3 separate regions of the Homo sapiens genome follow, and regions 1 and 3 are each linked to region 2. The links come from fine-mapping of genetic effects on gene expression. A gene starts in region 2. Each other region holds a variant in brackets. All regions are shown on one strand. Distances are from middle to middle.

Region 1 (2,761 bases), 65 kb after region 2:
AAATGTTTTTTCTGTTTTGACCTTTATATATGATTATGATTATTTTATACCTGGCTTCGTTTGCTCAACATTATGTTCATAAAATCCATCCATCCATATTGTTGCCGTTTGTAGCTGCAGATTCTGTTGGCTTGTCTGTTTTTCCGTTAGATATTCCACTGCATCAATATACTACCATTTATTTTTCCAGCCTATTCTTCGTGGGCATTTGAATTGTTTCCAGTTCTTGCTATTACCTGCCAATAATGCTGTTATAAGCAATCTTGTATGCTTCTTAGTGTCCATGGACTCACATTTTTGTTGAACATATATCAAGAAGTGAAGTTGCTATGACATAGAATACGCCTATGCGTTAACTGTTTTCTAGATAATGCCAAACAATTTTTCAAAGGTATAGCAATTTGCACTTTCTCCAGCAGTGTATGAGAGTACCCGCTGCCCCCATTTTTGCCAACTTGGCAGGCTGCAGTGCAGTGCATCTCATTGCGGTTTTATTTTGCATATTTCCCTTGGGCAAATTTAAAACAACTAAAGTGAGTGGCACGCCCTCTAGTGGGTAAAATCTGAATTACCTGAAAGGGTCTTTACAGCGTATACAGGCTTCCTGGGCTTTCCTCCGCCTTGTCCTCCACCAGTAGTCTCGAAGAATAAAAAGTTGAACATCTTTCATATATTTATGGTGCATTTGATATCCTCTTTTAGAAATTGCCCCTTTAAGCCTCTTGCTTATTTTTCTACTGATTTTTTAACAGCCCAATCGCTAAGATTTTTTATATTAAATTGTAAGAGTTCTTTATAGATTCTGACAAAGTGCTTTATTAGTTACATGTGTTTCTGCGCACGCCTTTCCACCTATAACTTAAATCAGCTGATTTTCACCTCTATTAACACGAGTCTCAATCCAAGTTCAATTTTGTCATATTCAAAATCGACCAGGAGATGGCGCCCTAGCCTTGCGTCTGAGCCTTCCACAGGCTGTGCCTGAATTTAAACTAAACCTCCCAAAATATTTTGTAAGGGATGCTAAAGAGATATTAAACTTTCAACCACTACAAACAGGTAGTATATAGCTAGAGCTGGGCCTCTTGGTGAGAACAACATATTAATCTTTTAGGGGAAAGTGACTGCTCAAAATAAAGAAATAAAAAGATCTTTATCACAAGGCAGGAAGCTGGGGTGAGGTTGCCCAGAAACAGGTGAGGACCCAGTAGAATCCATGGAAACACCCTCTGAGAAGTAACCTGCGGACCGATTAAGACAGTGGCACTACCTCGCAGGCCCTGGGACGGCTGTTTCACTGTTTACAAGGGCACCTGCCAGCGAAGGGTCTCAGAAGAGGGTAGAACAGGGGTTTGGTATTTTTCCACCTCCCTTCCCT[T/G]AGTCCTCTTTTTGGTTTTGTTTTCATTCATTATATTTTGTGACTGCTTAAAACTTCTGTCCTCCTGCTTCCTCCCAGCACCCCCGCCCCCCTTGCTGAATGAATGAATGGATGGCAAGGTCTTAGCCTTTTGATCTTAGAAATCAGTGCACATAAACCCCACACTCAAAGGAAGACCCCCAGGGAGAGCCCTACGTGTAGAGGAGGCTCCTCCAAGAGGGGGCTCGGGAGGGGGCTTGGTGGGCTGGGCTGGCCTGGCCTGTGCGCATGAGAGAAAGGAAAGGCATCTGCTGCCGAGGGCCATGAACAAGGGGCCGAGGCACACTGTGGGCATGGTGGGAAGGCGACCTCTTTTCTCCAACTTTCACAAGCGCCTGGCAGGAGCCACTACGTGGACATCGTGAGTGGTTCATCAGCAAGAATACAGGAACGTCAAGCCACAGATTCCACTCATTTCCTGAGGTAGCCAAGACAGGGTTTTTACCGCTATGAGTCACCACCCTCATGCCTCCAAGGCCTAGTGCAAAGACGAGCGCATGTGGAATGTGGTGAATGACGTCATCACTGCTGTTCATTCTCACTGTCCAGAAATGGCTCCAGGCTGAGTTGCACCCTCAAAGCTTTCCTCTGTTTCACCTCTGTTCAGACCCAATGCAGGCCCCTTGCAGCCCAGAGGAATAAAGAGATGCCTAGAAAGAGGCCGTGGCCACTTGTTCTCTTTTGTTTTCTTCACTGCGGAGGACTGAGCAAGCCCACTATCTGAGCAATGTGGAAATTCCAGCCCTCACAGGGCTTCACACCTTCAAGGGGAAGAACATTGCGCCATGAAACTTCCTTGCTCTAGGCCTGCCAGGGTAGGTGTCCGGGGGCTGGGTTCTGGGCCCGCACCAGGTCCCCAGGTCCAGGCCGCGAAAGAGCGGGTCTGCTGAGTGGGAGGGGCTGCCTGGGGCCAGGCTCTGCTCTCACTGGGGCTGACCCCACACAGGGATTCTGAGGCCTGCTGCCCACAACCTGCTGCCCAGACTGATGGTGTCCAGACAGAGGGAGGGTGACAGATGGATGCTGGGAGAGGGTACACAGCCCTGTGAATGCATCTCTTGGAGTCTGGGGTTTGGTGCCTCTTCCTTTCTTCCTGGTGCTAATGGTTTGCTGGATTGAGTTTGTACTGCTTGCAAGAGCTAATTGTGGAATTTTCAGAAATTTTGCAAAGCAGTTATTAAATTGTCATCATTTTAAAAATTAAATTATAACAACTCATGAGAAAATAAGTTTTGTTTTTGTTTTTGTTTTTGGGACAGTCTTGCTCTGTCGCCCAGGCTGGAGTGCAGTGGCACAATCTTGGCTCACTACAACATCCGCCTCCCGGGCCCAAGCGATCCTCCA
Region 2 (2,761 bases):
CAGGTGATCCGCCCGCCTCGGCTTCCCAAAGGGCCGGTATTACAGGCGTGAGCCACCACGCCCAGCTGATAGCATTTTTTTAGCAGTCATGTATTTTATTTACTTGTTTATTTTTAGAGACAAGGTCTCACTCTGTCGCCAGGCAGGGGTGCGGAGGCACAATCATAGCTCACTGTAATCTCGAACCTCTGGGCTCATGCGACCCTCCTTCCTCAGAGCAATTAACAAATGTATATATACTTTTTCCTTCCTCTCTCCCAATATTTTAAATTAAGGTATGCACATTGTTTTAGACATAACGCTATTACACGCTTAATAGACTACATTATAAACATGATTGTATTTGCACTGGGACATGAAACATTTGTGAGACCTCACTTTGTCATATTGCGGTGGTCTGGAACCAAATTCGCAGTATCTCCAAGGTATGCCTGTACTAGATTTTCTATGCTTGAGTTTAGTCCATATCGTAAATACCTTGGAGGCAAAAGGAACACGGCAGAGAGCACAAAGAGGACAATACATATTTGCTGAAAAACAGTAGGACACAGAACTGCTGACGACGACAGCCTTGCCCTCTCCAGTTGACTGCAGCAAATGTTGCCAATTTGCCAGAGACAAGCAATTCGAGGAGAGAAAAGCTGCTTGCCTTTTCAGTTAGCAAGAAAAGTGCTGGGTTTGTCTTCTGCCGAGCACCCGCAACCCAGATCCCGACCCGAGATTCCTGAGACACACTTTCGGTGGAGGGAACTCCTAGCAGCAACGCCCAGCCCCCGGCGTGACCCTCCGACCGCACTTGCCTCCCAGCCTGGGAAGGTGGAAGAGGCCGCCCAAAGTCCCCTCAGTTGGCCAGTGAGTGACCCCTGGGCGGAGGCGGCGCAGTGGCCCCCAATCCAGCCTCGGGGCGAGAGGCGGGGCGCGCCGCGCGCCCCCGCCCATCGCGGGCGCCCCAGCCCTGCGCGCCAGGCCTGCGTGTCCTCGCGCCGACCCCTCCCTCGCGCGCCTCGCCCGGCGCACGCGCGTGGCCTCGCGCAGGGCGGGGAGAGGCGGTGGCTGTGGGCGTCCGGCCCCGAACCTGTCAGACCTGGGGAGCCGGCCTCCAGCAGCGGGCGCGGCGGGCGCGAGCACGACCCCACTCTCCTGCGGCCGCGGGTGGAGCAGCGCGAGCCCGCCTCGCTGAGCCGGCCGGGGGCGGGGAGATGAGTTGCGGCCCCGCGGCAGCGCCCCAGGTATTAAATAGATGTGCCGCCCCCTCGCGGAGCCCCGGCGGAGCGTCGGGGTCGGCCCTGCGACCCGCCGCCAGCGGCTTCGGAACTTGAGGACAGGGTTGGGCGCCTTTAATTTATAACGTGTTTCGTTTTCCACAGGATGGGGAGGGACGCGCGGCACTGCCCTCGAGAACTGGCGCTCCGGTGAAGTAGGCGCCGCCGGCCGTCCGCCTCCCCCAAGCCGTTCCGCACCGCGGCCGCTCAGCCTCTGCCATGGCCGGCTCTGGCGCGTGGAAGCGCCTCAAATCTATGCTAAGGAAGGATGATGCGCCGCTGTTTTTAAATGACACCAGCGCCTTTGACTTCTCGGATGAGGCGGGGGACGAGGGGCTTTCTCGGTTCAACAAACTTCGAGTTGTGGTGGCCGATGACGGTTCCGAAGCCCCGGAAAGGCCTGTTAACGGGGCGCACCCGACCCTCCAGGCCGACGATGATTCCTTACTGGACCAAGACTTACCTTTGACCAACAGTCAGCTGAGTTTGAAGGTGGACTCCTGTGACAACTGCAGCAAACAGAGAGAGATACTGAAGCAGAGAAAGGTGAAAGCCAGGTTGACCATTGCTGCCGTTCTGTACTTGCTTTTCATGATTGGAGAACTTGTAGGTGAGTTGTGTTGCCAACTCACTTTCCGTTTACCTTTCCTCGAGAGTCTTTGTCAAGCTGTAGTTACACAGGCTTTGAGGTTTAACCCATCTTTTCAGGAAGTTTGTATTTATCAAGACACTGATCTCATGTGAAAAGGCCACACGGTTCCAAAGTGCAGCTCAATCTAAGTACAATATAAACTCCCCGAGATAACTTTGACTTTCTCTTCTAGTTGTTCAACCACTGTCATCTACCGTAAAGTTAAGGACGTTATCTTCATTGTATGTCATGTAACTTCCTCTTTTTACAAAGGTCTGGTAAAATACCAGGTTAATTTTCGCAACGTTTAAAATAGTAAATGATCGTAAATAACTTAAGATCATAGAATTTTACAGTATGAAGGGACCTTACTGAACACCTGCTCCACCTCCTTTTTTTTTTTACATGTAAGGATTTCCAGGGCACAAACCAGTGGAATAAGTCGTGAGGGCCACTTAGGGAGTTAATGGAAGAGCCACATCTACAGTCCCAGCATTTTTTTCCTCTACATTTGACCTAAGTGGTTTCTTTTATACGATTTCCTTTTGTATTTATAGCCAAGAGATTTGCAAAATTAATTACCAACTAACATGAAATTTTTGCCTCGTAAGAAGGGCCTGAAATGAACCAGAGGACTCCGCCAAAGTTCTATGAGCCTGGTTTTCTTGTTCATTTTTTAATTATACGAACAATCCGTTCTCAATATAAGATACATTCTTAGTTTAGAGGTTATTTTCAATCACGTCAGTATAACTACTAACTTCTCAGTGACAGTTTACAAAGTGACATAAAAGCAGGGAGATGATTCTTACATGTCATCTCTTAAATGATGAACCATGACAAAAACAGGTGGCAGTCCAGATTTAAG
Region 3 (2,761 bases), 300 kb after region 2:
CAAATCCTATTACTGTTAATTAAATTGAAGAAGTCATGAAAAATCTGTCAACAGACTTAACATTTTCACCTGTCAAAAATTAACTTACAATAATTCTCTTTCTGGAAAATTAGAAAACTGGATAAAATATATGAAACAGTGGCTTTCAGACATTGGACAACAGGCAACATATAACTATGATCTCTGAGAGAAAGAGAACAAATGAGGTGAGCCCTGGGATTGGCCAGTTTACAAAGACAGAGAACACCAGAAATCTGCAGAGGAATCTTTTTGAGTCTTTGGCTGAGAAGTAACTTATGTATACATCCAGTGAATCACCATGAAGCCGGGTAAAGGACCACCAGAATGTAGTAAACTAAACAATTTCTGGAGCTCACACAGGGCTGTGAGTAGTTTGTGTTACTACTAGCCAGAAGGATCATGCTTTGGTTAGTAAGCCCTGAAAGTTTGAAACTAACCCCAAGTAATTTTTTTTTTTGAACCAGAGTCTCACTCTGTCACCCCGGTTGGAGTGCAGTGGCATGTCTTGGCTCACTGCAACCTCTGCCTCCGGGTTCAAGCGAGTCTCCTGCCTCAGCCTCCCTAGTGACTGAGATTACAGATGTGCACCACCATGCCACGCTAATTTTTGTATTTTTAGTAGAGACAGGGTTTCACCATGTTGGCCAGGCTGGTCTCGAACTTCTGACCTCGTGATCCACCTGCCTCAGCCTCCCAAAATGCTGGGATTACAGGCATGAGCCACCATGCCCAGCAACATCAAGTAATTTTAACCACATGCCAGAATAATGTCAACACTCTAAAGAAATACCACAATATCAACACCTAATGATGTAAAACTCATGGAGTCTGGCATACAAGAAAATAATTACCAAATATGCAAAGAAGTAGAAAAATATAACCCATAATCAAAAGGAAAATCAATCAGTATAAATCTCAAAACTATAAGAAGATGGAATTAGCAGACAAGAACCTTAAGACAGCT[A/G]ACATAAATATTATAAATATTCTTAAGAATGTAAAAGGCGGCCAGACACGGTGGCTTATGCCTGTAATCTCAGCACTTTTGGAGGTCAAGGTGGGAGGAATGCTTGAGCCCAGGAGTTTGAGACTAGCCTGGGCAACTTAATGAGACTCCATTTCTACCAAAAATTTTTAAATTAGCTGGGCACAGTGACATGTGCCTGTAGTCCCAGCTACTTGGGAGACTGAGTGGGGAGGATCAGTTGAGCCCAGGAGGTTGAGGCTGTAGTGAGCCCTGAACACACCACTACTCCCAGCCTGGGTAACAGAGTAAGCCCTTGTGTCAAAAAGAAAAAAAAATGTAAAAGAAAACATAAACATAATGAGAGAAACACAATATAAAAAGATATAAATGGAACTTCTAGAGATTAAAAATATAATATCCGATATAAAAAAATTAGACTGGGTGGGATTAACTGTGAACTTGAAGATATAGCAATATAAACTATCCAAAACGCAGTGTAGAGAGAAAAAGGAAAATGAATCAAACCTCAACAACCAGCTGGGCACAGCGGCTCATGCCTATAATCCCAGCACTTTGGGAGGCCAAGGTGGGCAGATCGCTTGAGCCCAGGAATTTGAGACCAGCCTGGACAACATAGTGAGACCTTTTCTCTTATTTTTTAAAAGAAAAAATATTTTAAAACTTAAAAAATTAAAAATTAAAAATAAAAACGAATCTTAACAAGCTGCAGGACAGCCGGGCATGGTGGCTTATGCCTGTAATCCCAGCACTTTGGGAGGCCGAGGCGGGCGGATCACCTGAGGTCAGGAGTTCAAGACCACCCTGGCCAACATGGCAAAACTCCGTCTCTACTAAAAATACAAAAATTAGCTGGGCATGGTGGTGCAAGCCTGTAGTCCCAGCTACTCTGGAGGCTGAAGCAGGAGAATCGCTTAAACCTGGGAGGCTGAGGTTGCAGTGAGCCAAGATCACACCACTGCACTCCAGCCTGGATGACAGAGCAAGACTTCATCTAAAAAAAAAAAAATTACTTGAACAAATAACAGTATACAATTTCCCCCCCACACACAAAGAAAGTCACAGAGGAGGTATATGATCTTGCTTTAGCAAGATCTGCTTTGCGTTTAGCTTCCCTGGGCCTCAGTTTTCTGATCTTTAATATAATGCCTATCTGATAAGTGCTTGGAGGATTAGCTTGTGATAGATGTAAAGCTCTTGGTCCAATGCTGAGTACTCAGTTGTTGCACATGAATGGAAGTAATGAATGTAAAATCCCCAACACCAGGCTTGGCAAAAAGTAAACACCTCAAAATGTAAATTATTGTTATCATTTCATCCCTTGTTTTCTTTCTTTGGTCTATATAGACTTAATTTCATTATAAAGATAAAATAGACCTTGAATGATTAAAAAAAAAATTATAGCCTGGGCAACATAGCAAAACCCCATTTCTACACACACACACAAAATATATATATATATATATACACACACACACACACACAAATATATATATGTATACACAAAATTTATATATACACAAAAATTAGCTGGGTGTGGTGTCAAGCGCCTGTAGTCCCAGCTACTGGGGAGTTAGGGGGCTGAGGCAGGAGGATCACATGAGCCCAGGAGGTTGAGGCTGCAGCGAGCACCACTGCACTCCAGACTGGGTGACAAAGCCAGAACTCGTATCAAAAACAAACAAAACTCAGCTAACCTCAAGCAGAATAAACATAATGAAAACACACAGAAAGGCAATCATAATCAAACTGCAGGAA

What was found. PIP is the estimated chance that this variant, and not a neighbour inherited with it, causes the effect.
Region 1: its variant is fine-mapped to the expression of SLC30A4 in blood mononuclear cells (TOPMed, PIP above 0.99).
Region 3: its variant is fine-mapped to the expression of SLC30A4 in whole blood (TOPMed, PIP above 0.99).

What each region holds. Positions count from the first base shown.
Region 1 is chr15:45,455,910-45,458,670 of GRCh38, reverse strand. All of the region lies in intron 1 of SLC30A4-AS1 (SLC30A4 antisense RNA 1), which reads right to left. LOC124903483 (a long non-coding RNA gene) reads left to right here and starts at 2,163. Exons shown (of 4, transcript XR_007064616.1): 1 at 2,163-2,232. RefSeq lists an enhancer at 1,908-1,957. The variant T/G (reference allele first, on the strand shown) is at 1,379.
Region 2 is chr15:45,521,075-45,523,835 of GRCh38, reverse strand. SLC30A4 (solute carrier family 30 member 4) reads left to right here and starts at 1,081. Exons shown (of 8, transcript NM_013309.6): 1 at 1,081-1,229; 2 at 1,368-1,872. The coding sequence starts at 1,482. It also overlaps the pseudogene HMGN2P46. RefSeq lists a silencer at 889-1,378.
Region 3 is chr15:45,218,008-45,220,768 of GRCh38, reverse strand. No RefSeq gene overlaps it. Among named protein-coding and RNA genes, the nearest start is that of TRH-GTG1-9, 18 kb to the right of the region's middle. The variant A/G (reference allele first, on the strand shown) is at 986.